Regions from separate parts of the Homo sapiens genome. Here regions 2, 3, 4, 5 and 6 are each linked to region 1. The links come from fine-mapping of genetic effects on gene expression. A gene starts in region 1. Each other region holds a variant in brackets. All regions are shown on one strand. Distances are from middle to middle.

What was found. PIP is the estimated chance that this variant, and not a neighbour inherited with it, causes the effect.
Region 2: its variant is the best candidate, but not a certain one, in a credible set for the expression of BEND7 in lung (TOPMed, PIP 0.61).
Region 3: its variant is the best candidate, but not a certain one, in a credible set for the expression of BEND7 in skeletal muscle (GTEx, PIP 0.55).
Region 4: its variant is the best candidate, but not a certain one, in a credible set for the expression of BEND7 in whole blood (INTERVAL, PIP 0.85).
Region 5: its variant is the best candidate, but not a certain one, in a credible set for the expression of BEND7 in whole blood (INTERVAL, PIP 0.87).
Region 6: its variant is the best candidate, but not a certain one, in a credible set for the expression of BEND7 in whole blood (Lepik 2017, PIP 0.85).

Annotation. Positions count from the first base shown.
Region 1 is chr10:13,526,808-13,531,881 of GRCh38, reverse strand. It overlaps BEND7 (BEN domain containing 7), which reads left to right and starts at 2,868. Exons shown (of 9, transcript NM_001369863.1): 1 at 2,868-3,409. The coding sequence starts at 3,349. It overlaps BEND7-DT (BEND7 divergent transcript), which reads right to left and starts at 3,278. Exons shown (of 2, transcript XR_930674.3): 1 at 3,230-3,278; 2 at 1,618-1,862.
Region 2 is chr10:13,462,576-13,467,649 of GRCh38, reverse strand. All of the region lies in intron 6 of BEND7 (BEN domain containing 7), which reads left to right. Among named protein-coding and RNA genes, the nearest start is that of BEND7-DT, 63 kb to the left of the region's middle. The variant G/A (reference allele first, on the strand shown) is at 2,218.
Region 3 is chr10:13,479,407-13,484,480 of GRCh38, reverse strand. BEND7 (BEN domain containing 7) reads left to right here. Exons shown (of 9, transcript NM_001369863.1): 6 at 3,357-3,582. Among named protein-coding and RNA genes, the nearest start is that of BEND7-DT, 47 kb to the left of the region's middle. The variant G/A (reference allele first, on the strand shown) is at 2,544.
Region 4 is chr10:13,492,134-13,497,207 of GRCh38, reverse strand. BEND7 (BEN domain containing 7) reads left to right here. Exons shown (of 9, transcript NM_001369863.1): 4 at 320-442; 5 at 4,332-4,597. Among named protein-coding and RNA genes, the nearest start is that of BEND7-DT, 34 kb to the left of the region's middle. The variant C/T (reference allele first, on the strand shown) is at 2,004.
Region 5 is chr10:13,568,067-13,573,140 of GRCh38, reverse strand. No RefSeq gene overlaps it. Among named protein-coding and RNA genes, the nearest start is that of PRPF18, 16 kb to the left of the region's middle. The variant C/T (reference allele first, on the strand shown) is at 2,011.
Region 6 is chr10:13,561,560-13,566,633 of GRCh38, reverse strand. No RefSeq gene overlaps it. Among named protein-coding and RNA genes, the nearest start is that of PRPF18, 23 kb to the left of the region's middle. The variant C/T (reference allele first, on the strand shown) is at 2,055.

The DNA of each region.
Region 1 (5,074 bases):
CAGAAATAAACAATGCATCAATTTAAAATTGTGCCCCATTTTGAGTGGCATGATGAAATCTTTAGCCAACCTGCTCCTTCCGGCCCAGAATAGGAATCATTCTTTAGCCTAGCGTATTCACATTGTCTGCACTATCTGCTCGTTAGTCACTTGTTGGCTTGGTTATTAGAAAACATAAAACAATAAAAAACACGGTATATATGGGGTTTGATGGTAACATAGTATATACGGGGTTCGGTACTATCCTCAGGTTCAGACATCCACTGAAGGTCTTGGACATACTCCCCAAGGATAAGGATCAGCTACTATATGGATACCTGCTACTTAAAGCAATCTCACTTTATGTTTTATTTTATATTTTAATTTTTTGGTAGAGACCGGGTCTCAGGATGTTATCCAGGTTGGTCTTGAATTTCTGGCCTTAAGCAATCCTTCTGTATCCCAAAATGTTGGGATTACAGGTGTGAGCCACTACACCTGGCCCCAAGCAACCTCATTTTAATTAAACATTATTATTAATTTTAATACTAAATGTGATATATACATTTTTGTTAGATAAGAGCATAGTGATTTGCACAAAATGCAGAGTAAACAGACATTTATTTTCTCTAAAAGCTAATAAGACAAGCGTAGCCTGTGTCCTCTGCAGGCCAACTCACTCATAGACCAACTTTGGAAAGCCAGGTTAAAAAGGGTCAAGGAGAAATGACTACTATTTAAAAATATTCTTACTCAAATATTTTATTCTTAACTATATCAAAAATATTCTCTTCAGTAAATGGAATTTGCATTCCCACTTGAACTGAAAATGCTAAGTTGTTAATACCTTCTCCAGGGATTTACTTCTTGGGATGACACCTTCACTGGGTTCGTCATAGTTTAAGCATAATAAAATCTCATTATATGCTCCAAAGCATGAACGATCCGGGAAGTTCCTCAGTCAGTGTAGAACTTAGCCTTACGGCTTTGAGAATAACATTTTAAAAGGCATTACATAAAGAAAGAATGGATCCCAGCCTGGGGAACAAAATTGCATGCTTTGTTTCTTTAAAAACATCCAAAACAGCCGGACGTGGTGGTTCACGCCTGTAATCCCAGCACTTTGGGAGGCCTAGGCGGGCTGATCACTTGAGGTCAGGAGTTTGAAACCAGCCTGGCCAACATGGCGAAACCCCATCTCTACTAAAATACAAAAAATTAGCTGGGCGTGGTGGCCCATGCCTGTAATCCTAGCTACTTGGGAGGCTGAGGCAGGAAAATCGCTTGAACCCGGGAGGTGGAGGTTGCAGTAAGCTGAGATCGCACCACTGCACTCCATCCTGGGCGACAGAATGAGACTCTGTCTCAAAAAATAAAAAATAAAAAAAAATCCAAAACATCTTCAGATTTTAATGCCTGATTTTAAAGAAAGGGGTGGCAGGGAAGGAAGAAACCCAAATAGGGTAGTTGCTTTAATCACTGTTACCACTAATTTTCTGAGAGCAGCAAAGCGCGTCTAAGAACTCCAATAAATCTATACTAAATTTTATATGTCCCATACATATTTTCTGGGAAAAAGGGCCCTTGAGCTTTGAACACAATCTCAAAGGAAACAGTGACTAAAAAAGGTTAAGAACCTCTTGTTGAAGGGTTTGCTTTATTGAACGGAAGAAACAGTTCTCCCTCTCCCCTCCACGCTAGGTATAACCAGCCTTCCGGATGTGCCGCCTTTGGTATCACCCAAGATCTCGGGATGGGTACCCATCCCTGCCTCCACTGCCTGGTTTGCTGGTTACCCTGCTCTTTGGTTCTGTTTCTCCATGTGTGTTTCTGCAAGCTGCCTCAATGTCCCCCTTCCTCGGCAGTTGTCCTACTCTGTGTCCCTGAAATAAGAGCGGTTCCTCAGCGGCTGCCTCATTTGGGTGAGACCCACGTGACACTCATCACATTTGTCAACCTCCCCTTTTTCCTCTCTACTCTTTTGGGGCCACTGGCCTTTGTCCCGTGCCGGAGAGGTAGCCCCCCCATCCCCCGACTCTTTACCCTCTTCCTGGTTGGGTTTGGCAGATACTTTCACGCATGTCCCGTCATGTTCCTGTCCTACCATTCCCAGGTAGTGTGAAATTCTTTTCCTGGCCCACTCGAAAGATGTGAGAAAGAAATGGTGCCTGAAGTGCGCTCTCTGATCCCCCGAAAAGAATATTACACATAACTACTAAGCGCTTTGTGTTTGGGTCCATGATTCCGACATATGACGTGGAGAAGCATAGTGCCCTGCACCTGCCTTGACCATGGCCTCCTGAGAGTCCCCAGGGCCACCAAGCCCCCCATTCCAAGTGCTCTCCTTGAATGTGACTCGGCTCTTTCCACAATCCGCCCAGCCTGGGTTAGGGAATGGGAGCTCTCTACTATATTCTTCTCCACAATATTCTAAAACCTCCTCTCTGTCCTTCTAGAGAGAGCGCAAATGGGTAAGTTTTTTCCCCCTAAAACTTGCTTAAAATCAGCGCGTCGGGCCCCGGGGCGCCCGGGATGTGAGGGCGGGGAGGTGGTTGTCGGGGCGGTCCGCGCCCCCACGGCGAGGTGCACGGAGTTAGCTCGGCCCAGCAAGCGGCGGAGGGAGGCCAGCGAGCGGGGTCTGCGAGCGGAGGCCCGGGCGGCGGCGTCGTCCCCGGGGGCAGGCAGGCCGGCCGGGCCCGGGCCAGGGCGCTGCGCCGCGGCCTCCGCGCCTCCTCGGGGCGCCGCGCGGCCAGGCCGGCGGCGGCCCCCGGGGATGGCGGCGGCCGGGCTCCGCCAGCAGGTGGCCCTGGGGTCCCAGCGGCACCGCCCCCTCCGCCGGCGCCCCTCCTCCCGCGGGGGCGGTCAGCGCCCCGGCCGGCTCTGCACCCGCCGCCGCCCTCCCCGCAGCCCGCCCGCCGCGTCTTCGGGGCCGCCGCCGCCGCCGCCGCGACCGCAGGCTGAGCCCAGGCGGGCCGGCCGCCCCGAGCCGCCCCCCGCCTCCGCCGCCGCCGCCGCGCCCCGGCCCGGCCCGCTCCCAACGGAAAGTTGGGCTGCGGCGGGCGGCGTCTGGAACCCGCGGGCCGGCATGAGCGGGGGCCGCGGGGGCGCCTAGGGCACCGGGAGGCGGCGCCGCGCGGGGGCAACTTCGCCCGGGAGCCCACGCCGCCGGGCCCCGCGCCTGCAGCCCCGAGCCGGCTCGCGGTGGTTCCTCCCGTCCCGCGGCCTCCCCTCGCCGACTCCAGGCGCGGACCTTGGTCCCGGCGGCTCCGCCGCGGTGACACGAGCCCGCGCCGCCGCTGCCGCTGCCGCCGCTGCCGCTGCCGCCGCTGCCGCCGCCTCCTCAGCCCCCGCCGCCGCCTTCCCCGCACCATGGAGTTCTCCGAGAGGAAAAGAAGCAGGAAATCCCAGAGCTTCAAACTGGTGAGCCGAGGTAAGCGGCCGCCGGGGCGGCGGGGGCAGGCAGCGGGCGCCGCGCCCTCGGCCGCCCGCGGGGGTCCACGCTGGGGGGCGCGCCCTCCCGGAGCCCCCGGTCCTTCCCGGTCCCCCGGTGCCTCCGCCGGGCTGGCAGGCAGGGCCGCGGCCGCACACGCCGGGCGGCGGGGAAAGTTGTGCGGGGGGAGCAGGGATGTTATTTAACGTAAACAAGTCGGAGGGCAGCTCAGGAAATTAGCAAACAATGACACCGGGGGGCCCGAGCCCTCCTCGGGGCGCCTCCGGGGCAGGGCTGGGGCGGCCGCGGACCTGCCTGGCCATCAGGCCGAGCGTGGACCCTCGGACCTGAGATTTGCTGTTTTTGTTTTCTGGGGTCTTCCCCCTTCCCCCCGCCAAGAGAAGGAGGAAAAAGGATGACCGTTGTTGTTCTTTTTAAGAAGGAGAAAGAAGCTCACGCCGTGTCCAAGCCCAAGGCGGAATTGTTGACATCCAACATCTCTAGCTAGCTGATTTGGGTTGGAAAGGTGTTTTAGACTAGATCATATAGCAGTCAGATAAGCATCCTTTAAAAAAAAGAAAAAAGAAAAGAAAGAAAAGAAATCCATCTAGTTTCTGACGAATTAACAGGTGTACACCACACTCTAGGGTTTGTATTTTGTCAGGGAGGGGAAAGTGGAATACAGTCTTGTCTGTGTTCAGTTACTTGTTAAGAGTCTTTATCTTCCTGATTTGACTTTTTTTTTTAAAAAAATGATAACTCAAGAGCCATCGTGAAAATATATCTCAAAATGCATTGTCATCTTTAATTAGGGGCAGGTGACTTTTTTCATTGTAATGTCACAAGTCCTCATATTGAGTTTAGACCCGCTCTGTTTAAATGTCGTCTTTTAATCAAGTTGAGGTCAAAGCCAAACCCCAACCTGTCCACTTTTCCTCTGTCGTTTTCTCTAGCATTGGCATCAGGGTAGAAACTCCAACAACCTGCAGAAGTCACGTGTAAACTGATGAAAATTAGTGAAAAAATCGTGGACAATTGCAAGTAATCGAATTTTTCAAACTGAGCTAAGCTAGCTAAGATGTGGATTTGGTTCATCTGAAAATGCTTTGATTATAGGCATTTTGAAGATCCATTCTTATCTGCCTCCCCTAATTTAGTTTGGATACTGTTTAATGAAAGAGGCCTGAAATAGTTTCACGCATTCAAAATACTTGGCTCTTCCCACTTTCTGAGTAAATTTTTTTTTCCACATCCGTGTTGATTACTCAGTTACTTGGACTTTTAAAAGTCTCTGTCTGGGTGATTGCCCTGTTGGTGCTATCTGATTCATTCAGGAATGTAAGCTGCTTTCTTATTGATGACCTCAGAGAACTTAACTGCTTTATCTTAAAAGTGAGAGTAGTTTTGTTGACTTTGTCCTGTGAGGTCTAAGGCCAGAGAAAGGGGACTAGGTGTTAAGGAGGAACCTCTATTTTCATGCCTTAGTGACCCTGCTTTTCAAAAATAGAAGCAAAAATGCAGTAGCCTCCATAGAGAAGCTTGTAAAATACTGTATTTGAAACTTTGACTGACGTAGCAAGTTTTTCCTTTTTCCTTTTTTCTTTTTCTTTTAATTATAGGTCTGATTCTTCTCTTTCTCTGCAGGTGCAGTTTTAGAAAATAAAC
Region 2 (5,074 bases), 64 kb after region 1:
AGAAGGAACAGCAGCCACAGACAGATCAAATGGCATATAGGAATTAAGGGTAGTGTAATCTTGTCGATCAAAAACATTAAGGTAATCTAAAATAAAAAAGCCAAGTTTGTATTTAATGGGGCTGTGAAAGCATTGATCATTGTTAAATATCAAAGAGAAACCTCCACGGTATGCCACATGGAAAGTGTAGTATGTCATGCTTTCTTTCATACTAGAGAGGAATCATCCTCAAAAGTTGAAGTGTAATCATTTTATTGTGGGATTTTGGTTTAAATAAACCTAATAACGGAATCCATAGTTAGGCTAAATGTGCCGTTTCCTAGTTTTCCTACCTGAAGACTTCTTGACACATCCGTATACTTCCCCTCCAGGTATATTTTAGCCTTTGTCCTAGCAACTTGGTGCCTGAAAGAGTGAGGATCAGATAAAAGTCTGAGAACTCCTGTCAGCCTCAGAATGTGAACCCCAAATTTTCCTACAGCTGATCCCAATGAGAAGGGAGTTGCCACTGTGTAAAAAAGAACAGGAAATTGAATCCTACCTCTGAGGCATGGGCCCTGTCCTGACGCCCCAGCATCTTCCCCCGGTGTCCACGGTGGGACAGTGCATAAATCTCCACTGATGAGTGAGACCCCTGCCCCGCACCCGCCTTCCCAGCCCTTCACCCTTCCTTCTCCCAGCCTCTGTCACCTCTGGGTTGCGGTCTGACCTGAGCCTCCTGCCTATGTTATAATTTACCCTGGCACTGGAGGCGTTCATTCCAGACCTCCTGGCGAGGGGGTAAACTCAGCGCCTCATGGAATGACTTTGAAAATTCATATACTGAAAAACCCTCGCTTTAGAAAGAGAAAAACGCATGACTTTTTCCTCATTCATTTATCTAAAGAACAGTCAAGCCCAGTAACATGTGGAGGGAACGCATGTGTTTTATGCCACTTGCCTAAGGCCTCTGAGCTGGTGATTCCCAATCTTTTAAATTTTGTGTTGCTTGAGCCTCAGCATTCGATTCTATAAAATAAATAAATGAGTTATACGAAACATAATGCACCTTCCAAGTAGAATTTCTATAAATCCATAATTTTTTTTTTTTTGAGACAGTTTCTCACCCTGTGACCCAGACTGGACTGCAGTGGTGTGATCTTGGCTCACTGCAACCTCTGCCTTCCAGGCTCAAGCAATTCTCATGTCTCAGCCTCCCTAGTAGCTGGGATTACAGGTGTGCGCCACCACGCCCAGCTAATTTTGAATTTCTAATAGAGACAGGGTTTCGGCATGTTGGCCAGGCTGGTCTCAAACTCCTAACCAGGTGATCCGCCCACCTCAGCCTCCTAAAGTGCTGGGATTACAGGCATGAACCACTGCGCCCGGCCTATTAAATCCATAATTTTGAAACATTTTTCTTTGCTAAAAAAAAAAAAAAATGGATTCAACGGTCAAACATCATTACACTAAAGCTTGTTATTACCCAGATCTTAATACTTAGTAAATACGACGTAACCATTGAAATATACCAACTGTGTTAAACAAAGGCATGGCACAGCTCACCAAAGGAAAGTTCTTCTTGTTTCCCAACAGTTGTATTATAAATGGGTGCTTCCTTAAATTGATAGAAATTAAAATTAACCTTGTTTAATTTGAGAAACCACTATCAGCACTTTTTGGCACTTCCTTTTAGACAGAAATGTCATAGTAGCAAAACTGAAGGAAGACAAAGAATATTGTTGTCTGTCCCCCCACCCCTGCCACCACACACACACACACACACGAGAGAGAGAGAGATAGCTGTGGCCTCAAATCGGTGAGAATCACTGGGATTCAACAAGACTCTTCAAGCCTCAGAGTCCCACCAGTGTGGGGATAACAAAGGGAGCACTGTGGGACGTAGATTCACTCCTGACTGTCATTCAAGCTCTTGAACCATCACTTTCTCTAGGAAAAAAAAAAGTGTGGCTTGACTAACTTTTAAAGTCTCCAGTTAAAATAATAATAATAAAAGCCTCCAGGTCAGAGATTCTGTGGTTCAGAGGTTATATTCCAAATTCTCAGAAGTAAACCTAAAGAACCAGATAAATATGGCTTGGAATCAGTTTTATGGATATCTAGGGCCCTTTTCATTACATCAGCCAGCTGAAAATAACAGCCCCATAGAGTAGCAGTCAGCACGAAGATGAGATGGTCCTCACGGCCAGCTTTTGCAATCCTTGACTTTTGTGTCTT[G/A]TACGACTGACTGCCCCGCATGCCGGCTCCTGCTAAAGTCTCATGTCTATAACTCAGTAGGATATTCTCATTTCATCAGTAAATACCTTGTCTGCAATACTTTATTTCCTTAATTTAAAGGCATCATTTTTAGGTGCATTAGTTGATGAACTGTGCTAAATTCTGATTGTCAAACCGAATCTGAAATGAACTTCAGGGCTCAGTATGAGACCTCTGGCTATTTACTGAAGAAGTGCTTCTTACAGTTCCTTCAAGTTAAGTAACAGACGAGAGAAAAAACTTTCTCAGATTTACTCTTTCATGAACCATACATTCATACCTGCCTATTATGTGCCAGCAGTGAATGGAAGACGTGATCTCTGCCCTTGCTTTGAGCTTGCAGTCTTGATGAACACTGGACATTGTTATTTTAAAAAATCACTGGTTAACGAACTCAGGTAGGCCTTATCGGGGAAGGTCACGTCTCAGTTGAGACCTGAAGGATGAGATGCACTGCTGTCTTCTCTGTTATTCCCCGAAGGCAAATTACTGAGTCTTCTCCCAGCTCCCTTTTAAAGATAGCTTTTGGTGCTTATCCCAAAAGAGTGTGTGTGTAAGGAGTATAATTGAAATCTAGTCAGCGTTGACATTTCTGTGGCATAGCCCTAGGAGAAATTTTCTGATTTGTTCACAGACTGAAGAACGACATTTGTCCCCATTAACAGTAGTCTTTAGGTTAAAACGTTGAAATAATAGTGTTCCTCTTCATCTTGAATGTGGTAAAGACATTTGCCAAGAATTTGTTTTCTCTGCCTTCCCCTAAGATTTAAAACAGCTATTATTAATAATTTACTTCATATCCCCTCTCTAAGAATCAAGATGTTCCCTCTCCCTTCCATTCTCTCTCTTCCCCGCCCCAGAGTAATGGAGTTGGTGTGTATCTTTCCCATTCATTCTTACTTTGCCACTTGTGTTCCCGTCAATCCTATTCATTATTGTTTTGTGTCCTGCTTACAGATCTGTGGCCACAGCATCACACGGTACTTTTGCAACTTGCCTGTGTTTCACATGTCCTTTTTCATCTTTTTAAAGATTTGTCCATCTCAGCACATTCTAACCCTAGCTTAGCCATTTCATCTGCTAACCACTGCATGACAAAGCCTTTTCTTCCTCCAGGCTTCTCGTAAGAGACAGTGAGGCTGGCTTTTCTCTTTCCCTGTCACCCAAGGCAGCTGTCATCTCTGTGTTTCTGGGTGCCCATGTGTGGGTTTCTCTAGAGAACACACCAGGCAATGGAACGGCCGAGTAACAAGGAACAGCGTCTTCAGCTTCGCTGGGCATTATCAAGTGGCTCTCAAAACTGATTAATTGATGCATCTGCCAGCAAGGTAGAAGAAATCCCACTTTCCCGCATTCTTGCCAAGATCTCTTGTTACCAGATTTTAATTTTCACCAGTCTGATGGTTCTCAAGTGAGGCTCAGTGGTAGAATCTCTGATCACTAATGAAGTTCTGCATCCTTTCCTATTTGTCATTATTTAGTTATTTTTCCTCTGTGAATTTCCATCCTTTTCCTGTTTTTCCACTAGATGGTTCTTCTCTTACTGACTTACTGGAGTTTTTTTGTCAATGACATGCATTTCAAGTATCACCCCTTATTTTCCAGTTGTGAAGACGTTGCCTACAATGTCTTTTATCTTACCGAAGTTGAGATTTGACAGGCAGATGGATTCTCTTCATGCTTTTTGCCTTTTTGTGCCCATTTTAAAAGATCCTCCCTACTCAGATGATATAATTATATCCTTTTATTTTTTTTTCCAACAAAGTTTTATTTTTTATAATCAGGTCTTTAATCCATCTGGAATTTACTTTTACCTAAATGTGAGGTAGAGATTTAATTCAATTGTTTTTCACTGTGGATGATCAGTCATTTTAACAGCATCCATTTTTGACTGATTCATAATTCTATCTCTGCCATAGTCTGAGCTCCTCTCACACATGTTTACATTTGGTCTTTTATCTACCTTCGTCTTTGAGCCATCATTTTCATTACTCTGGCATTGTAATAATTCTTAAGATCTTATAGGTCATGCCCTCTGCACTCCTCCTCCCCTTTCTCCTCTCCAGTTCTTTGCCTCTGTGTTGTTTTCTTCTTCCCATAAATGGGAAGAAGAAATGGGTTCTTCTAACCCATAAATGGGCTGAACCATTTCTGCCTAGTGTTCCATTATTGGAATGCTAAGCTTGTGGGAGTTATTTTATATTCTGCTGTTCATGGTCATCACCAAGGTCTGATTTTTCACAAAAACATTTGCAATCTCCAGCATAAATGGATTAAGCACAGTGTTTAGTAATTCTTTGATTGAGGGTCTTCGAGTCTTTGTTCCGAAATTTTCCTCGGAACAAAGGAATGATGTGGAGTTTAGTTGGGTGATTTGTTGTAGATCAAGGATGGTTTTTCATCATGATTTGAAGATATTCCAGTGTTCTCTAGATTCAGTTGTTGTGGAGTCTGATCAACCTGTTGTTCTTCTGTAGATCATCTGTCTTTTTGCTCTAGTTGATTGTAGGATCTTTTGGCCTTTGGTGTTCTTTGGTTTCTTTATTACAGTTATGTATTTATTTTTCTTAATATACTTGATTGTTGTGCTTCTTAGAACCAAGGATCCATGACTCACCAGTTGTGAAGACTTTTCATCTACTCTCTCTTTCCTCTCCTTCATTCTTTGAATTCTCTCCCTCTGAAACATCTATTAGTGTTTACTGGACCCTTTTATTCTGTCCTTTGTATCCCTTATCTGTTCTATTTCCATCTCTCATGTCTATGTTACACTCTGGGTTATTCTCCAGATCTATCTCCCTGTTCCACTCAGTGATAT
Region 3 (5,074 bases), 47 kb after region 1:
GATACAATTAAAGAAAGAGCTTTATCCTGTTTTTAAATATACGTACAAAGATGTGGATCATTATGTGATAGTAATCCACTGTGATTACATTTATCAAATGGAGGAAATAAAAAGATTTCTTAGTGAAAATGTGAGATTAGTGAACGTCATCTTTTCTTCATGTTTCAGAAAACAAAGCTGCCCTCTTTTGTTCTTTTAAGGCGTTGTTGCCTTGCGGCACCTGGCACACGTAGATAGCATTGGCGCTTGTTCACTCCTGGCTTAGAAATCTGAATAGGAGACAGGCCGAGAAGAACAGGAAGGACAGAGCCCAGTCACCTGTGCCCCGGCTGCCGCTGCCACCACCGCCTCCACTAATCAGACTACTTCCTCCTTTGTAAGGTGCTTGCAAAGGGGTGAGTTCATGTTCCTTGATCTGGAAAGAACAGTTCAAAATAACAGTATTTGGCAGTAGAAAGTGGAATGGAAAGCAGTGACAGCATCTGCATTGGAAGTCTCTTAGCTCTGCAGAAACTTCCAGATACTTAGTTGTTAGGAGTTGTGGCAGATACCAGAAACAGCGGCTGTACCTGTCTCCTGAATCCTACCTTCAAGATCCTGTTAAAACACTGTCCTATCCCCTCCTGAGCCCCAAGAGCCCCCTTCCTCCCGTACCCCCAGCAGCCAAGTCCTGCCTGATGCTGTCTCAGACAGCACTTGCTCTGTTCTCTCTCATGTTTTATCACGTTCGACTTTATAGGATAGGTATTTGTGCATATGTCTTGCCTGCAGAACCAGCCTTCAGATTCCTACACATGGAGGGGGCTCAGTGAGTAGGTATTGAAACAGCTGGGTCACTGTTCTCCAGGTCACCCAACTCCTGGAGGTACCACATGAACTGTTAGAAGACACAGGTGTGCTGAGCACAGCGTGGCAAACTTTCAAACCCACTTTCTTTATACAGGGATAAAAGATCTGTGAATCAACACCAGTCATTTTAAATGAATTCTTACATATTGTTTTGTTTATTCTAACAAATATCTATTGGGCAGTCAATGGGTGTTTGACACTCCAAATACAAGAGTCCTCATCCCAATGACAAATGCAAACTCCCAGCTAAGCAAATGCTGTGTGAAAAGTGCTGTAAACAGAGTTCTTAGAAACAGTATGAGCGCATGAAGAAGGGAGTGGCCAGTTCCGCCTGGTAGCTCATTCAGGTCAGTGTTTTTCAAACTGGGGTCCATGTTCACAGGATGAATCAAAGGGGAAGTCTCAGAGGTCAGCGTTTTAAGTACCTGTTTAATGGTATCAGAATCAAACTGAGATTATATAAGTAACTAGTGTCCTTCCCCTTCCTCTCTTGCCATTAAGAGTGTCTGAACCACACTAGATCCTCAAATAGCTGTGATTAGCTGCTTCTGTAAGATAAACTTGGATTTGTTTTAATGGCTTTCAAATGATACAGGAGCACTTAGCAAAAATCCAAGATCAGTTCATTTAGAACAAAAGTTCTAAATGCAGCATAGGATGTGCAAAATAAAACTCTGGTTATGAATAAAACTTCATCTTAGATTATGATGGTAAAATTCTCTCAATCCTAATAGTGTCTACATTGAATCATTCAACAAAGACATATTGAGTGCCTGGTATGTACCACCTCTGTTCTGGGATCTAGGGATGCAGCCTCCAGCTCAGACAACCTCCTCTGGAGACCTGGAACCAGCAAGCAGCAAGATGCAGAAGTTAAGGGGAAAACCTGACAGTATAGCTGTGTATGGTGATATTCACCAAACATTCAGAGACCAAACATGGAATGGCAAAGTGAAGCAGAAGTGTGAGATGACTTTCTGGATATTCCAGTTAAAAGTTCTATTTTGGAGGGACCAGGCCCAAACTCCTTCCTGTGTCATCCAAAGAATTGAAGCTATGCTCTGAGCCCTGTTTACTTTGACCATAGGTGGGGTGGCATGTTGAAAAGTGATAGGACAAAATCAAAAATAATCATTCTTACTATCCAGGAGAGAAATTCATCCCGGATCCTCACATTTCTGATGTGATTAGAAACTGCAAAGCAGGGCCAGTTTTGCAGAGTGGTGAATAGGAGATCTAAGAATCAGCTTTGATAGCATGTCTTAATTCAGTGAGGTTTTCTTCAGACTTTTTTCCTAACAACAGTTTACCAATTGCATTTCTTCATATTAAAGTTATTATTTTACAGCTACCATGTCATAACCAACAATAAACTAAATGACTTAGTAGTGCAGGTTATGACTAATGAACTTTCGTCTATTCCACAAGAAGTTATGGAGTGCCTGCTATATGCCAGATCCTAGAGATACAAAGTCTGAGCTTCAGGATCAGGGAGGGCTGCAATCTAATAAATAATTCTAATACAGTGTAAGAAATAGAATCATATGTCTGCTAAATGAACAGCAGGAACAGAGAGTTGTAGCCACCTCCATGGGCAGGAAGGAGTTAGGAGATCAGTTCATTTGGAAGGCTTTGTAAAGGAAAGGGTATGAACTGGGTTGAAAGATTCAAAGGTGAGCTGTAAACCTCCTGGC[G/A]TGCTGTTGGAGAAGGCGTGCTGAGCGCCGAGCGTGTGCGATAGCGTCCAAGTTGAAAGGCACCTTGGACGTCCTCTGATTCCGTATCCCAGTCAGGATGTCCCTGCCAGGGAAGCAGTGTGCTAGCACATTGGTTTTCCAAGAGTGATCTGGGACATAGTTTCACATTTTCCTTCCAAAATTAGGGATGGGGAGTGGATTTAAACTGCCTGGGAAACCTGCTCATCGTTTTTACTTATTTTACATATTAGTTTACAAAAGTTTTCATTGGGGAAAAAAAATATCTCTGCAGCTAAAAGCCACTGGCATAGTAGAAGGAGCCAGGGGCCTTCTGGGTTAGCCCCGTATCTGTGTCCTTAGGGGAAAGAAATTAAGTTATTTAGTGTATGAGAAAGTGATCTGTAACTGTACTGCACTGAGCACATTTGAATTATTTCTCAATCTTTTTTTTTATGATCTCTTTGGGCCTTAGTTCCTTTGTTTACAAAATGAGGATATTTCATCCAGAAGTCTCAACTCCCTGTTAGCTCTAGAATGATAGGATTTTGTGGTTGTCCAGGCTTCTCTTGGCTATTTTCTTTCCATTGCTTTTGACAAGGCTCAATATTGGAATTAGAGCATCTTGTTTCATAAGTTATAACTAGTCCTTGGTTTTATAAATAGCAGATCCTGGCAGACAAAGAAAGCCAAGAGTGTTTTCATTTGTAGGATATGTACATTTCAGTAGCTAGTGATGTTTTTTTGTTGCTCATGTACCCAAAGTCAGATGCTTCAAATCTTGCTTTTAATGAAATATCTGTGTTCTTTTGGTAGCCAGAAGTACAACTTGCTGAAGGCTTTGACGTGTTTATGCCTAAATCTCAGCTGGACTCTATATTGTCAAACTACACTCGCTCAGGAAGCCTTCTGTTTAGAAAACTGGTGTGTGCGTTTTTTGATGACAAGACTTTGGCTAACTCCTTACCCAATGGGAAGAGGAAAAGAGGACTCAATGACAACCGGAAAGGACTAGACCAAAATATTGTGGGTGCAATAAAAGGTTGGTCTGCATCATTTCATTTTGTGGGTTCTTCGTTGAGCTTTCCCTTCATTCCGTAACGATGCAGCTGAAATTGTAGTAAACTGACTAGTGGCCAGTTTCATTTGCCATTGCCAATTTAGCCATTCACATGGCTTTCGGGTGTGAGCTCTGTAATTCACCACCCCAAGTACCACTAGAATTCATTATTCAAGGTAATGTTAATTTGTTGAAATAATAATTTAAGAGCCAGTTTGACCTGCTGCAGAATCAAAAAGAAGTTTTTTCTTGACTTTTAAAATGCAGGTAATTTGTAATTTCTAAGAGCTTCCTCAGAATATGACTTCAACTTAAAGTTTGAGTTATGAGAATAAAGCTATGATGCTTCTTAAAAAAAAAAAAAAGATAAAGTAAAATGGTTCTCTCTGAAGTTTAGAGTTGCTTTACCAGGTTGTTGCTTCTAAAGACATTTTAAATCTAAGTGACCTTACTGTGACATCAAACCCTGTGCGTCCCCACACATGCCTGGCCCGCTCTTCTCCCTCTTGTTTTGTGCCGTGGAGTCATGCCAGCTCCATGCAGAGACCACCGTGGGTCTCTCCCCCTTCCCTCCTTTGAGCATGCATCTGTATTCCACTGCACTACGATGACCATGCAGGGGCACGTGGGAGCACCTCTGCATTTATATCCAGTGCCACATCCTAAACCTACTTCTCTTAACTTTAAAATGCCCATATTAAGCAATCTGATGAGTGTAACTTTAGGAAATAGAAGTACTTAGTTCTTACCAAAAAGAACATAAACCAAGTCTCAAAACTAAACACAACTCCATGAAAAATGAGACTCTGAATCAGGCCTTGCTTAAAACTGGAATAACGGATAGGGGTGCTGTGCTTCCTAGCTCAGTTCCTGCATTGTTGAGTTGTGAAGTGGGACTGACGCAGAGGGCCTTCTCTGCCCCCTTCTGTTCCCCATTATCTGGCAAAATGAGTAAATGAATTCAGTAGTGTTTAAAGGATGCTTGAAAGTCCACAATTAACTTTATAAAATAATACGGTATTTAAATGGAACTAGCAAGTACCAAGCACCCTTTGTTCATGGCCAGAAGGACATAAGCCTTCATTAACAGAGAATTTCTCATGCTCAATCAGAATTTTTTCACTTAAAGTGACAGTTGAGTTGTATTAAATATGAAAAGCTACAGAGATATCACAAACTGTGCCATTTCTGAAAAGAGTGATTCAGCCTGAAGTGACACTACAAACAACATGACAGAATTTGAAAAATGGTCAATGATGTAAGTAGGACTTCCTGAAGTGAAGAAGGGTCCCTTCTCAAAACAAGAAGGTCAAGGCTACTGGTGCTTTTCTGAAATGCAGCGAGGAATTGTTTTAATTTTCTTTTTTTTTCCCCAGGGCAGCATATTAATATTATGAAAGCATTTGGAAATTAGGGAACCATAAATGACCATAGTCCATTTTAATGACAGTAGAAGAGTCATCCTAATAATAGA
Region 4 (5,074 bases), 35 kb after region 1:
TGTTATTTGAGATGAACAGCTCTGACAATAGGGAGGCCTGCTGTGCCCACTCATTGTGTGTGTGTGTGCATGCGGGCTCCCGCACCGCGCCACAGCACGCACGTTACAGTATGGAAGCCTGGATAATTAGATAAAGTCAGACCCCCAGATTTAGGTTGTGATAATTAGTGGGTACGTTTTCCTTAGGCACAGCTTCATCATAATTGCACATGCTTCAAAATCCTGCCAAGATACTTTCTTTTTTCTCTCCACCTCTTTATGATTTTTTTTTTTTTTTTTGGTTTGTTTGGAGTATGTCATTCTTTTCTTTCATGCTCAGGAGAACTTCCAGTGGTGAATTCATCAGCTGGATCAAACTGCTGTACTTGTAACTGCCAGTCAACGTTGCAGGCCATTCTACAAGAACTCAAGACCATGAGGAAATTAATGCAAATTCAAGCAGGTACAAGGATCAGGCCTCGGAATGAGTCCTTTGATTTTTAATGCATATCTGACATCTTCCGTTGGAATGTTCATTGTGCTTTTATTAAAGCCTTCTTCTCACCTTGCTGTCTTGCTGTGCCTTTTCAAGTATCTGTTTTTTCAGCTTTCTCTACAATCCATTTTTCCTTTAGCAAATCAAACATATTTTGTCTTGCTACTGATACAGCTCATATAATTATGTGTATGTACTCGATAGACTTCATTCCATGATCTCCTAGTACTTCACAAATGTCAGTTAATTAAATTTGGGAACAACTGTGTATGGAGGGGTCCTTTAGGAAGCATGGGCTTCAGTGTTCAAGCACTAAGCAGATAAGAAATGTGGAGCCCCAGGCTATGCTTTGTGGCTTTTCTCTCTCCTATTCAGGATGCGGAAGCTCAGAAATCCGCCGTGTTCTGTCGTCTTTGTTTATGTGACTCCTTTTTGTTTTCACTGCCATCAGGCAAGTTGAGGGACGGAAGAGCAGTGGATTTGTAATTTGGGATTGGATGCCAATTTCTGCTTTTGGAGCTGTGTGGCGCATCTGAGCTTCCTATTTCACGTCTGTAAATGGAGAATTCATATCTAACTCACAGGGCTGTTGTCAAAATAGAATGATGTAGTAGCTGTCAATGAACTTTATAAGGCATGGTACAAGCCTAAGCTGTTTCATTAGTGTGGTCTTAAAGTCCATGAAGCGTTCTATAGAAGTCTGGAAGTCTACGTCTTCATTATAGCAGCTGTATTTTCTGATCTTCACAATTGAGGGAAAACAGAATTGTTTTTGTCACAGGTACAAGAAATAAATCATTGTATTAAGTTTTCCCTCTTGTCAAGGGACATCACCACTTGATCTAAGCCATGTCGTGACTGGCTTTCCTGCCCTTTCATCAGGATGGTAGTCCGGAAGGTCGTCACTCAGAAGCTGTTCAGGATGCCATTTAGTGAATTCTAGTATAATTTTAATATTCAGTGATGTGGTTTTGATATAAAAAGCTTAATTAATACTTAGATATATCAGTCACCCAAGATCACATTAAAGTAATGTGAGCTACTTTCTGAAAAACAGCATCTTTTTATTTGAGATGGAGTTTCACTCTTGTTGCCCAGGCTGGAGTGCAATGGCATGATCTCGGCTCACCGAAACCTCTACCTCCCAGGTTCAAGCGATTCTCCTGCCTCAGCCTCCCTAGTAGCTGGGATTACAGGCATGTGCCACCACGCCTGGCTAATTTTTGTATTTTTAGTAGAGATGGGGTTTCTCCATGTTGGTCAGGCTGGTCTCAAACTCCCGACCTCAGGTGATCTGCCCGCCTCAGCCTCCCAAAGTGCTGGGATTACAGGCGTGAGCCACCGCGCCGGGCTAAACAGCATCTTTTTAAGCACTGAATTTGGTTTTACCCCAAGGAAGTATTTTGCTCAGGTCAGTAAGCATTGGACTCACCTTGTTCCACTACGATAATCTGTGTTCTTATTAACCTGGAGGAGGTTAACATCTCCTAAATAAGGAGCTCAGAAAGAAAGGTTACTTTATGATGTT[C/T]GGATTCTTTTCTCCGAGGAGGAATTTGTTAGCACTTAAGAAAATATGCATATGAAATTGTAATGATTTGTTTTGTCACTTAAGCTCCTTACTACTGAAATGGCAAACTACAAATTGCAACCATTTAAATCCTTGACGGAAGCCTTTTTAGAATCTATTAAGTAAATGCCACTTTGTCGCTATGTTTTCTTTTCTGAACCTTTGCAGATTAGGGAGGTAAACGATTCCAAAGCTGTAGGATGGCACAAAGGATAAACTGAATAAATTACTCTCCTTTAATTTTCTTAAACTTAAAAATTTGTGTCATGTGGGTAGATTTACTTAAGGTTTAATGCCTGAAGACTTAGATTTAAATTACATTTAGAAAGTTTCACCTTTCTTTTAAGAAGACAGGGAATAAGACCTAGAGGTAAGATCTGGATGCCAGAGACTTGGGCTGTGTCTAGATTTGCAAAAGGAGAAGAAAAACTCAGATAGTCCCCGTGTTCCTTAAACCAAAACATTTTCATTTCTAATTGAGAATCATGAGGCTTAGCAAGGCCTGGGGCCTAGACCATCGTGATCATTATTCGAGGTCCCTTTGATTCTGAGGGTGCAGACCCAGCCTTGAGGGGGAATGCAGAGAGACCAAAGAGAAGTTCCCAACTCTGGCTGCACAGCAGAATCACTGGAAGAGCTTTCAGACAATGCTGTTTCCCAGGCAGCATGCCTGGAGGTGTCAGTTCACTTCGTCTGGGGTGGGGCTGAGGCATTTCAGTTTTTTTGTTTGTTTGTTTTTGTTTTTGTTTTGAGACATAGTCTCACTCTGTCGCCAGGCTGGAGTGCAGTGGCGTAATCTCGGCTCACTGCAACCTCCGCCTCCTGGGTTCAAGTGATTCTCCTGCCTCAGCCTCTCAAGTAGCTGGGACTACAGGTGCCCACCACCATGCCCAGCTAATTTTTGTATTTTTAGTAGAGACGGGGTTTCACCATGTTGGCCAGGATGGTCTCGATCTCTTGACCTCGTGATCCGCCCACCTCGGCCTCCCAAAGTGCTGGGATTACAGGGGTGAGCCACCATGCCTGGCCCGGCATCTCAGTTTTTTTAAACTCAAGTGATTCTAATGTACAACCAAGGTTGAGAACCATTGAGCTAGACTAATTACTGGTTTAAAAACTTCTGTGCTCTTATGTAGTGCAATTAGTTTGCTTCTAATATTTATGAATTGCTTTTGAATTTGGAGACAAAAATATCAGGATCAAAGTGTAAATATTCTTTATTTTCAGACTGATAAGAGGTAAGAGGAGGTGATTCATGTTTATATGCCTTTAAAGACCTTTAGTTTTCACTTGTCTTATAGGTTCATTTCTGTTGAAAAGCAGGGACATCCTATAGTCATATTTAGGAAGCTATATTAATACTTGAGGATTTAAACAATGATGCCATGTTTTCCAATTACACTTTCCAAGAGAGTATTTTTAAATGGCTAGCAAACATAACTTCTCAGAGTGCACCTGTGAGAACTGTAATTTACCATCCTGGATTTCTTTAAGTATAGAATCAGGTTGAATACTTGGTTCCTGTACTGTGCTTTTCATGTTTGGAACTGTTTCTAGATTTCACTGATTTGCTTGACTTGTACAGAATGATATTGCTCCTTCAGTTATGTGAAACCGAGGTCTAGAGAAGTAGCCTGGTCTGAGGCCATGTAGCAGGGTGCTCTGGAGGTGGTTGATGTGTGGAGAATATTTGTTTGGTGAGGAAGGATTCACTGGTCCTAATTAAGTAACTAATAGGCTTTTCCCACATGCTTACTGGTCCCTAATGTAGAATCATCCCAGACGGCTTCTTTTGATCAGTCTTGCGCAAATGATCATCACTGTCTCATCTTTATCAGTTTTGGCACCTGTAGATTATTAGGAACGGATCAGTCTAACCCCAAATGTAATCCTGAAACAGGATTACAAGGAAGCACAGCCGTCTCTATCTAAATTTAAATCCCGAAGTTCTCATTTATTTAAAAACATCCTATGATTTATAAAGCCATGCTCAGGTGTTTTCTCACAGCTCATGATCCTTTCCCTGCATTGAACCCAACAGCAGTATGCTGTCACGATTCACCTGCAGTAACGCTTTCTCCTGAGTATTTTTCTGCCTTTAGGACTTGAAAGTGCTTCAGAGCCTGCGTTTGGTAACCTTTAGGTCCAGTTGGAGATTTATTTAGTGTGCTTCATCCTGGAGTTTTCCTCGTTTCGGTTTCAGTTTGTAGATCACATGGATAGACCGGAGATAAGTTTTCCTAAGTCAGACACACGTGCCTGTACCATATTTTTGTTTATTATTCGCAGTTGGAACTCAAAACAGACAACAACCTCCAATTTCCCTTATATGCTCCCAGCGAACTGCTGTCTCACGAAAGAGAAATAAAAAGAAAAAAGTGCCCCCAAAGACTGTGGAACCTCTTACTGTGAAACAGAAGCCCAGTGGGTCAGAGATGGAGAAAAAGTCGGTGGTGGCCTCTGAGCTATCTGCTCTCCAGGCAGCCGAGCACACCTCCCCGGAGGAGAGCCGCGTTCTAGGATTCGGCATTGTTCTGGAATCACCTTCCTCAGATGTAAGTTGCCATTTTCTGGCTGCTGACTCTAATGCTATGTAACTTTTGGGAATTTTATAGTATTTATAGATTTCCCTTTTGACAACTAGAGAAACTTGCAGACTATATGTGGGAAAGAAGAAAAGAAGACTGGTAATAATTTTCTTGTCTGGAGTTTTCTTTTCTGAAAATGTGATGCCTTATTTATTTAGACAGGTTTCCAGTTTTTGTCTCCGAAAGGAGGAGGGTGATGGCGTAAATAATCTGCTCACTAATTTCTTTTGCATTTTTAATTTTGCAGTGACAATTTTCAATTTCCTTAGTGTAGAGACCTAAAAGAATATAATTAAATCCTTTGTAGATGGGCATAAATGAACAGGGCCATACAGATAAGATCGCACCTTTCTGGAAACACAAACTAATAATAAAAAAGGAGCAGTCATGCTAATTCTATTTTATAGATGCAAGCCACACCACTAATTAGGTGGCAGCGCCATG
Region 5 (5,074 bases), 41 kb before region 1:
GCATTAAGTGCAAATTGACTAAACAGTACAATTGAAAGGCAGAAATTATTAGACTGGATTTTCAAAAACAAATCAACTGTATGTTGTCTCATTGGTTTTTTGAAACAGAGTCTTGCTCTGTCGCCCAGGCTGTAGTACAGTGGCACGATCCAGGCTCACTGCAAGAATCTCACTTTAAATATAAAGTTAGAGGTAAAGGATGGGAAATGATATTCCCATGCAACCATTAATAAAAAGAAATGAAACTACCTGTCTTAGTCTGGTTGAGTTGCCGTAAAAAATATCTTAGGCTGGGTGATTTATAAACAATAGTTTATAGTTCTGACGCTGGGAAGCCCAAGATCAAGATGCCAGCAGATTTGGTGTCTGGTGAGAGCCTGTTCCTCATAGATGACAGCTTCGTGCTGTGTCCTCACATGGCAAAAGGGGTAAGCCTGGCCTCTTTTATAAGGGTCAAGCCTTTTATGAAGGCACTGATCCTATTCGTGAGGGCAGAGTTCTTTCAAAAAAAAAATCACCTCCCAAAGCCCCCACTTATTAATACCATCACTTTGGGGGTTAAGTTTCAACATATGAATTTTGAGAGACTACAAACATTCAGATCATAGCAGTGACTATGTTAATTAGACAAAGCAAAATTCTGAATAAGGAACATTAATAGGGAGAAAGAAGAACATTTCATAATGATAAAAATGTCACTGCACCAAGAGGACATCACAATCTCAAATGAGTATTAACATAGCGTCAAAATGCATGAAGCAAAAGATGTTAGATCTCAAAGGACAAGTAAACAAGTCTACACTTATAGGTGGAGATTTCCACACATCACTATCAGTAATTGAGAGAACAAGTGGACAGAAAATCAGCAAGGATATATAAGACTTGTACATTATCAATTAGCATGACCCAATTGAAATTTATATAACATTCTGCCCCAAACATCAGAATACATACTCTTTTTAAAGTCCATTTGGAACATGCACTAAGATCATATTCTGAAGCATTAAACAATTCTCAATAAATTTCAAATAATTAAAAATATACGGTGTATGTTCTTTGACAACAATGAATTAAACTAGAAATAGCAGAAAAATATCTAGAAAACTCCAGTATTTGGAAATTAAACAGTACGGTTACAAATAATCCATAGGATCAAAAAAGTAATCACAAGGGAAATTAGCAAGTTTCATTTTTTTAGACAGGGTCTTGCTGTCACCCAGGCTGGAGTGCAGTGGCATGATCATGGCTTGCTGCAGCCTCCACCTCCTGAGCTCAAGTGATCCTCACACCTTAGTCCCCAAAATAGCTTGTGCCATGGTCATGTGCCACCACACTCGGCTCATTTTGTTTTTATTTTTTGTAGAGATAGGGTTTCGTCACATTGCCCAGGCTGGAAATTAGTAAGTATTTTGAACTAAGCTAAGCACAGTAGTACACACTTGTCCCAGCTACTCGGGAGACAGAGGTGGGAGAACCACTTGAACCTGCGAGGCGGAGGTTTCAGTGAGCTGAGAGTGCACCACTGTACTCCAGCCTGGGCAACAGAGAGAGATTCTGTCTCAAACAAACAAACAAGCAAACAAACAAAACCCTGTGGGGTGGAAATAGAAATCTCCAAGTCCTGAGAGTTTCACTGGAGACTTATCATATATTTAAAGTAGTAACACCAATTTTGCAGTTCTTCCAGAAAATATAAGAGGGAGTACTTCCCAACTAATTTTTATGAGGCCAGTTTCCCAGAAACCAAAACCTAACAAACACATTACAGAAAAATAAAACTATAGACCAATATCACTTATGAACTTAGACACAAAATTCCTCAACCGAATATTAGCAACTTGAATCCAACAATGTATAAAAATCATTATACACCATGAAAAGGTAGGATTTTTTTCTTTCCATAGCTTTTGGAGTACAAGTGGTTTTGGTTACACAGATGAATTGTAGAGTGGTGAAGTCTAAGATTTTAGTGTGCCTGTCACCCAAGTCCTGTACATTGTACTGAATATG[C/T]AGTTTTTTATCCCCCACCGCCCTCCCACCCTCCTTCCTTCTGAATCTCTAAAGTCTATTATACCAGTGTGCATGACTTTGCATACCCATAGCTTAGCTCCCACTTACAAGTGAGAATATACTGTGTTTGATTTTCCATTCCTGAGTTACTTCTCTTGGAACAATGGCCTTCAGCTTCATCCAGGTTGCTGAAAAGACATTATTTCACTTTTTTACAGCTGAGTAGATTCTATGGTGTATATATACCACATTTTCTTTACCCACTCATCGGTTGATTGGCACTTTGGTTGATTCCATATCTTTGCAATTGTGAATTGTGCTGTGATAAATATATATATGCAGGTGTCTTCTTGATAGAATGACTTCTTTTCCTTTGGGTAGATACCCAGTAGCCAGATTGCTGGATCAAATGGTAGATCTACTTTTGTTCCTTAAGAAGTCTCCATACCACTTTCCATAGAGGTTGTACTAACTTACATTCCCACCTTCCTTTTTTAGCATGTCTGTGCCAACATCTATTGTTTCCTGACTTTGGTTTTTTTTTTTTTTTTTTTTTTTTTGAGTCAGAGTGTCGCTCTTGTTGCCCAGGCCGGAGTGCAGTGGTGCAATCTCAGCTCACTGCAACCTCCGCCTCCTGGGTTCAAGTGATTCTCTTGCCTCAACCTCCCGAGTAGCTGGGATTATAGGCGCCCGCCACCACATCCGGCTAATTTCTTGTATTTTTAGTAGAGATGGGGTTTCGCCATGTTGGGCAGGCTGGTCTCGAACTCCTGACATCAGGTGATCTGCCCACCTCAGCCTCCCAAAGTGCTGGGATTACAGGCTTGAGCCACTGCACCTGGCCTGTTTTCTGACTTTTTAATAATGGTGGTCTGGCTGGGGTAAGGTGGTATCTCTTTGTGATTTTAATTTGCATTTCCCTAATGATTAGTAATGTTGAGCATTTCTTCATATATTTGCTGGCCATTTGTATATCTTCTTTTGAGAAATGTCTATTCATGTCATTTGCCTACTTTTTGATGGGATTATTTATTTTTCTGGCTGGTTTGTTTGAGTTCCTTGTAGATTCTGGATATTAGCCCTTTGTTGGATGCATCGTTTGCAAATATTTTCTCCCATTCTGTGGGTTGTCTGTTTACTCTGATGATTATTTCTTTTGGCATGCAAAAGCTTCTTCAATACAGTCCTATTTATTTATTTATTTATTGCATTTGCTTTTGGGGCCTTAGTCACAAATTATTTTCCTAGGCCAATGTCCAGAAGGGGTTTTCCTAGGTTTTCTTCTAGAATTTTTATAGTTTCAGGTCTTAAAGTCTTTGATCCATCTCGAGTTGATTTTTTTATATGGTGAGAGACAGAGACCCGGTTTTATTCTTCTACATATGGCTATCCAGTTTTCCCAGCACCTTTTATTGAATAGGTTGTCCTTTCCCCAATTTATGTTTTTGTATGCTTTGTTAAAGACCAGTTGGTTGTAAGTATTTGGCTTTACTTCTGATTTCTCCACTCTGTTCCATTGGTCTATGTATCTACTTTCATACCAGTACCATGCCATTTTGTTTAATATAGCCTTGTAGTATAATTTGAAATCAGGTAATGTGATGCTTTCAGATTTGTTCTTTTTGCTTAGAATTGCTTTGGTTATTCAAGGACATAAAGTAGAACTTGTTCCAGATATGCAAGAGTGGCTCAACAAACAAAAATTGATTAATTAAAAATTTATCAATGTAATCCACTGTATCAACTGGCTAACAAAAAAAAATCATGTGACCATCTTAGTTGACACACACACAAAAAGCATTTGACAAAATCCAACACTCATTCATGATAAAAACTTGCAGCAAAGTAGGAAAGAGCATTTACCAAAAACCTACAGTCACCATCATATGTAATGGTGAAAGACTGAATGTTTCCTTGTTGGGTTGGAGAAACAACCCAAATATACATGTCAACTAATGAATGGATAAATGCACCATAGTATCATTCATTCAAAGGAACTGTATTCTGAAATAAAGAAGGAATGAACAGCTGATATATGCAACAACCTGGAAAGTCCCAAAACAGTATGTTAAGTGAAGTATTCCAGACACAGAATACTATATACTACATGATTCCGTTTATATGAAATTTCAGGAGCATTAAAAATATAGTGATAGAAAGATTAGTGACTGCCAGGAGCTGGGGCTTGGGCTGGGAATTGACTGCAGAGGGTCACGAAGGAGCATTTTTTGGAGGAGGAGGGAAATGGAAATATTCTATATCATAGTGGTTAAAAAGACACATGCACCCCCTCCCTAAACATCTTATCCTCTGATATATTCCATACTCTTCCTATTGTATCCACTCTTTAGCATCCTCTGCCACTGCATCCTTCTGTGTTAGCCATCACATCCAAAATATACAATCTTCACAGGTTTGCATCAAAAAGAGCACCACTGGCCGGGCGCAGTGGCTCAAGCCTGTAATCCCAGCACTTTGGGAGGCCGAGGTGGGTGGATCACCTGAGGTCAGGAGTTCGAGACCAGCCTGACTAGTATGGTGAAACCCCGTCTCTACTAAAAATGCAAAAATTAGCTGGGCATGGTGGTGTGCGCCTGTATTCCCAGCTACTCAGGAGGCTGAGACAGGAGAATTGCTTGAACCCAGGAGGCAGAGGTTGCAGTGAGCTGAGATCGTCCCACTGCACTCCAGCCTGGGTGACAGAGACTCCATCTCAAAAAAAAAAAGCACTGTTTATAACTACTTATAACTACAGCTGCTACAATTGACAGCACGTTCCAAAAGGAGGGACAGAACATTGAGAACATTGCAAGTGGCAGTAGTAATGGCCATGGGAAAAGCTGGCTATGAATGTCCCCCACGTGTTAGAAATATCTATCAAGACACCGTTAAAGACCACATTTCACCCAGTTTAACGTGACTTTTTTTTTCAGTTTTAACTTCTCTGAAAAGGGGACATATTTTTTCAGTTGATGACATCACGCAGTTATAATTGAGAATGTTTATTTTTCCTTCTTAGTGGTGAATTTTTTTAATGGTGCACTTTTTTTTAAATTATACTTTA
Region 6 (5,074 bases), 35 kb before region 1:
CTAGAAAAACACACAAGACTGAAAAAAAGAGAAGTAGAAAATGGCTTTGTCACTTAAAGAGGTATAATATTAGGCCAGTCATTTGCAAAATAAAGATCATACTTTACTTAACCAACAGAGATTTTGAGGCAAAAAAAAAAAATGAGATAAAGTGTTTCTAAATGTATAAATTTAATATTATAAATAGACCCTAAATCAGGGTAAGTTTCTGCTATCAAACATAACATGATTTTCTTTTGATTGCTGAAGATGTTTAGTAATTTAATATATTTACATGGTAACTTTCTACTAAAGAACCCCCAAGGCTGGGGGCAGTGGCTCATGCCTATAGTGCCAGCACTTTGGAAGGCCAAGGCGGGTGGATCACAAGGTCTGGAGTTCAAGACCAGCCTGGCCAATGTGGTGAAACCCCGTCTCTACTAAAAATACAAAAATTAGCCAGGCATGGTGGCAGGCACCTGTAATCCCAGCCACTCGGAAGGCTGAGGCAGGAGAATTGCTTGAACCTGGGAGGCAGAGGTTGCAGTGAACCAAGATTGCGCCATTGCGCGACAGAGCAAGACTCCATCTCAGAAAAAAAAAAAAAAGAAAGAAAGAAAAAGAAAAGAACCCCCCAAATTTCAGTCTCAAAACTCTTCAGAGATAAGGGACAGAATGTTGAATGCCATGACGTCCTTTTTGTGTGATCCCACCATGATTTATTTGAACTTCTCTTATTATGTTTAATAGTCTACTTTATTTTATATATTTTTGTATTTATTTAAGCCATCTTTTGAATCCCATCTTTCTTGAAGGCAAGAGCTGTTACAGCCCCTCTAATGGCAGTCATTGGCTGATTGTCTCAGGTGCCCACCTTATAATCCTGCCTTGAAATGGCCCCGTAGCCCACCTTTCCACCTTCACCTCCACTGCACGCCTCCCCTCCAAACATTACACCCATTTTCTTTTTTTATTTTCAACTGTAACCACCACACACTTTATTTTTCTTCGTCATAGATCTCCATTTTCCATTCATCCCCATTCTTTCTAGTGTTTTATCCCCTGTATTTGTCTGTTCTTGCATCACTATAAAGAAATACCTGAGACTGGGTAATTTATGAGTAAAACAGGTTTAATTGGCTCATGGTTCTGCAGGCTGTACAGGAAGCATGATGCTGGCATCTGCTCGGCTTCTGGGGAGGCCTTGGGAAGCTTCCAATCAGGGTGGAAGGCAAAGGGGGAGCAGATGCGTCTTAAATGGCCGGAGCAGGAGCAGGGGATGGGGGTGGGTACCACACACTTTTAAACAACTAGATCTCACAAGAACTCGCTGACTATCATGAGGACAGTATCGAGGGGGATGGTGCTAAGGCATTCATGGGAAATCTGCCCCTATGGTACAGTCACCTCCTACCAGGCCCCACCTCCAACCCTGGGGATTACAATTCAACATGAGATTTGGTGGGGATGCAGATCCAAACTGACAGAGCAGGAGCACTGTCTTCTTGGAAAAACACTGCCATTTTAAGTTCTAGCTCCCTTTCTACCCTCATGCGTTTCAAGGAAATCACTTCTCTTCTAACAAGAAAAAGCCAGAAAGGGCAGATAGCAAAACACAGATAAGACAGCTCGGGCCCAGAAGGAGTGGGGGAAAGTCTCTTGGGTAACCACCAAACTTCACACTCATACAATGGGCCCCAGTAAAACAGTGGGCCCTAATAAGCACATTCCTTTTCCTTTAGGTGCACTAAGCTAGGAAAGCTAAAAGCAGACTCAGTGGGTATGCCTGTACCTGCAGGAAGATGTATGGGAACAGACACAAAACTCTCTCTCCCAGATAAGCAAGACAAAGAGACACAGAAACATTCCCAGCCTGTGATGCGCTCTCTTGACCTGACCTCTTAAAAACTCTTAGTCTGTAAGAGAGAGTGCTCCTGACCTAATTCGGCCAGAAGCCCCTCTCAGGTTTATTCTTTAACATAAACCTGTCTTTGACTGTTGAGCCACTTTTTGTGCTTCTTTCTTCCTTCTTCAACTCTTACACAGACCATATCATCCACCAACAGTTACCTGAA[C/T]GACTTTACGGTTCTTCCTCTCCCTCCATGATCCTTCCCTGATGTTTCCACTTTCCCACTTTCTACCACCTCTTGGCTTCATTCCCTTGTCCTATCACTTGCCCAGCTTTCTTCTGAATTCCCATAGTGGGTATCAGCCCTGTTGAAAGATCTCTATTGCCTGTGGGAGGAAGCTGGGTGCTGAGGAGCAGTTTCTTGTCAGCTTTGGCAAAGTGGTCAGGTGAGAACTGGACCAGGTGAGGAGGAAGACCCACACGTGTCTTCCTCCTCTGGAAGAAGGAGGGTTAGCAGACAAGGAGGGTTAGCCACAGGCAGGCAATAGAGAATTTGGGCCATTGTCAAAATGCCAAACAGGCTGTGTGCAGTGACTCATGCCTGTGATCTCAATACTTTGGGAGACTGAAGCAAGAGGACTGCATGCGATCAGGAGTTCAAGACCAGCCTGGGCAACAGAGCGAGACTGCTTCTTTACAAAATACTTAAAAGTTAGCCAGGTGTAGTGATGCATGTCTGCAATCCCAGCTACTTGGAAGGCTGAGAGGGAGGATCACTTGAGCCCAGGGGGTCAAGGCTGCAGTGAACCGTGATTGCATCACCATGCTCTAGTCTAAGTGGCAAAGTGAGTCCTTGTCTCAAAAAAAAAAAAAAAAATCCAGGTGGAAGAGGTAATCCAAGAAGAATAGCCTGCAAGTTCATGGATCCAGCCAACAGGGGACATGTTAGAGTCAGTGACAGAGAGAGAGGAAACATAGGTTAAAAAATGCAGGCACCAGCCAGGCGCAGTGGCTCATGCCTGTCATCCCAGCACTTTGGGAGGCCGAGTTGGGCGGATCACAAGGTCAGGAAATAGAGACCATCCTGGCTAACACAGTGAAACCCTGTCTCTACTAAAAATACAAAAATTAACCAGGCGCAGTGGCAGGTGCCTGTAATCCCAGCTACTCAGGGGGCTGAGGCAGGAGAACCACTTGAACCCAGGGGGGCGGAGGTTGCAGTGAGCTGAGACCATGCTACTGCACTCCAGCCTGGGTGACAGAGTCAGATTCCGTCTCAAAAAAAATAAAAATAAAAATAAAAAATGCAGGCACCAGGCCAGGCGCAGTGGCTCACACCTGTAGTCCCAACACTTTGGGAGGCTGAGACAGGTGGATCACAAGGTCAGGAGTTCAAGATCAGCCTGGCCACAGGCTCCCAAAAGGGAGTATTCAGGGGAGATGGGCTCAGAGACCTGTTATCTATAAATTCGGTAATTATTACTGAACTTCCCACTTACCTGTTTGCTACGGTTTAGATGTTTGTTGCCCAAACTTCGTGTTGAAATTTGATTCCCAACATTGGAGGTGGGGCCTAATGGGAGGTGGTTGAGTCACGGGGGCGGATCCCTCATGAACGGCTTGGTGCATCCTCTCAGTAATGACAGAGCTCTCGCTCTATTAGTTCACACGACAGCTGGTTGTTAAAAAGTGTCTGGCACCTCCTTCTCTCTCCTGCTTTCTCTCTCACCGTGTGATCACCACATGCTGGCGCTGGCTCCCCTTCCCCTCCTGCAGTAAGTGGAAGCTTCCTGAGGCCTCACCAGAAGCAGATGCTGGCGCCATGCTTCTTATACAGCCTGGAGAACTGTGAGCCAAAAAAACTTGTCTTTATAAATTATCCAGAGTCAGGTGTTCCTTTATAGCAACATAAACGGACTAAGACACATTCATCTTTGCCATACAAAGAATGCTATGTTTCCGGCCTCATCTGAAAATCGTTGCACATTTACCTCAATAAATTCTGTAGCTGCATAAGAGTATCTAGATGCTGGATGATAGTGACATCTAAACTGTCCCAGGAGAGTCATGAATGCAGGCGGCATTTCAGAAAACATGTCAAGTTGTAACATAAAGGGTCTTTGTGCACAGTCCTGTCCTGACCTCCCCCAAATGGAGATACAGGATCCACTGAGAGGCCAGCACCCTTCTCCCTCAGCAGCAACTTGGTGAGGTTGAATGATGGCAAAATAGCTCTACTGATAACTCTTCCTGGGCCTCTTTACCATCATTCCGCAATTCTATAAGGTAGCAATATCACACCCGGAGCTGATGGAGACACGGCTTGGTCGAGTAACTTACCCACGATCACACAGCTATGAGCAGAACACCCAGAACTTCAAACCAGGTCTGTCCATGATTTTATCAACTAAGTTAATACTGCCTCAAGGTAGAGATGAAAAACAAGCAGTATTAAGGGGAAAAAACATGCCAGTTGTGGTAAGGGCTCGTTGATTTCAACAATGCTTAGGGCTTGCTGATTTTAACATTAGTTCCTATTGTAGCCCCCAGAGAAAGGGAAAATGAGTACAAAGTATGGGCACCTGGTGGCCGGGGAGGCAGCTGTGGCCCAGCTATGCTAGAAATCGACATAAATCCAATGCATAAGTTTCCAGTAAGTAGGTCTTCTTGGGCTGCCTGGAAAACAATGTTTTGCTATTTGTTTTTATTTTTTCATCAAGGGCCTCAACTGCCAAAGGCAGGTTTGGCTTGGCCCTTGATGAAAAAATAAAAACAAACAACATGACTTTCTCAAAATGGCTGTTTACCCTCCCTCAAGGTTCATTCCAGGACCTAGGATATATCAGGGCACCAATAAATTTATCAAAATGATCACTGAAATTAGAGGTAAAATTACTCTAAATAGGAAGTTAGAATCACAGAACCTTTAAAACTAATACAACCATATTATAGGAATTTAGCAAATGGAGAAAATAAAATCATACGTAATTCTATCACACAATTACTGTTACCACTTAATAAAATTAGGGCGCATATTTTATTTGCATGTGTATAGACTTTGTAATAATTGTGCACCTATTATTTTGCATCCTGTTTTTTCTTTTATTTAATCATATCACATCCACTTTCACATTTTGATTGACAGTCTTCATTGTGGCTTCTTTAGTTATGTAATATTTCATTAAGTGGACTATAACCAGAATTTATTTAAATCACTCCTGTGTTGCTGGATATTTAGGTCATTGC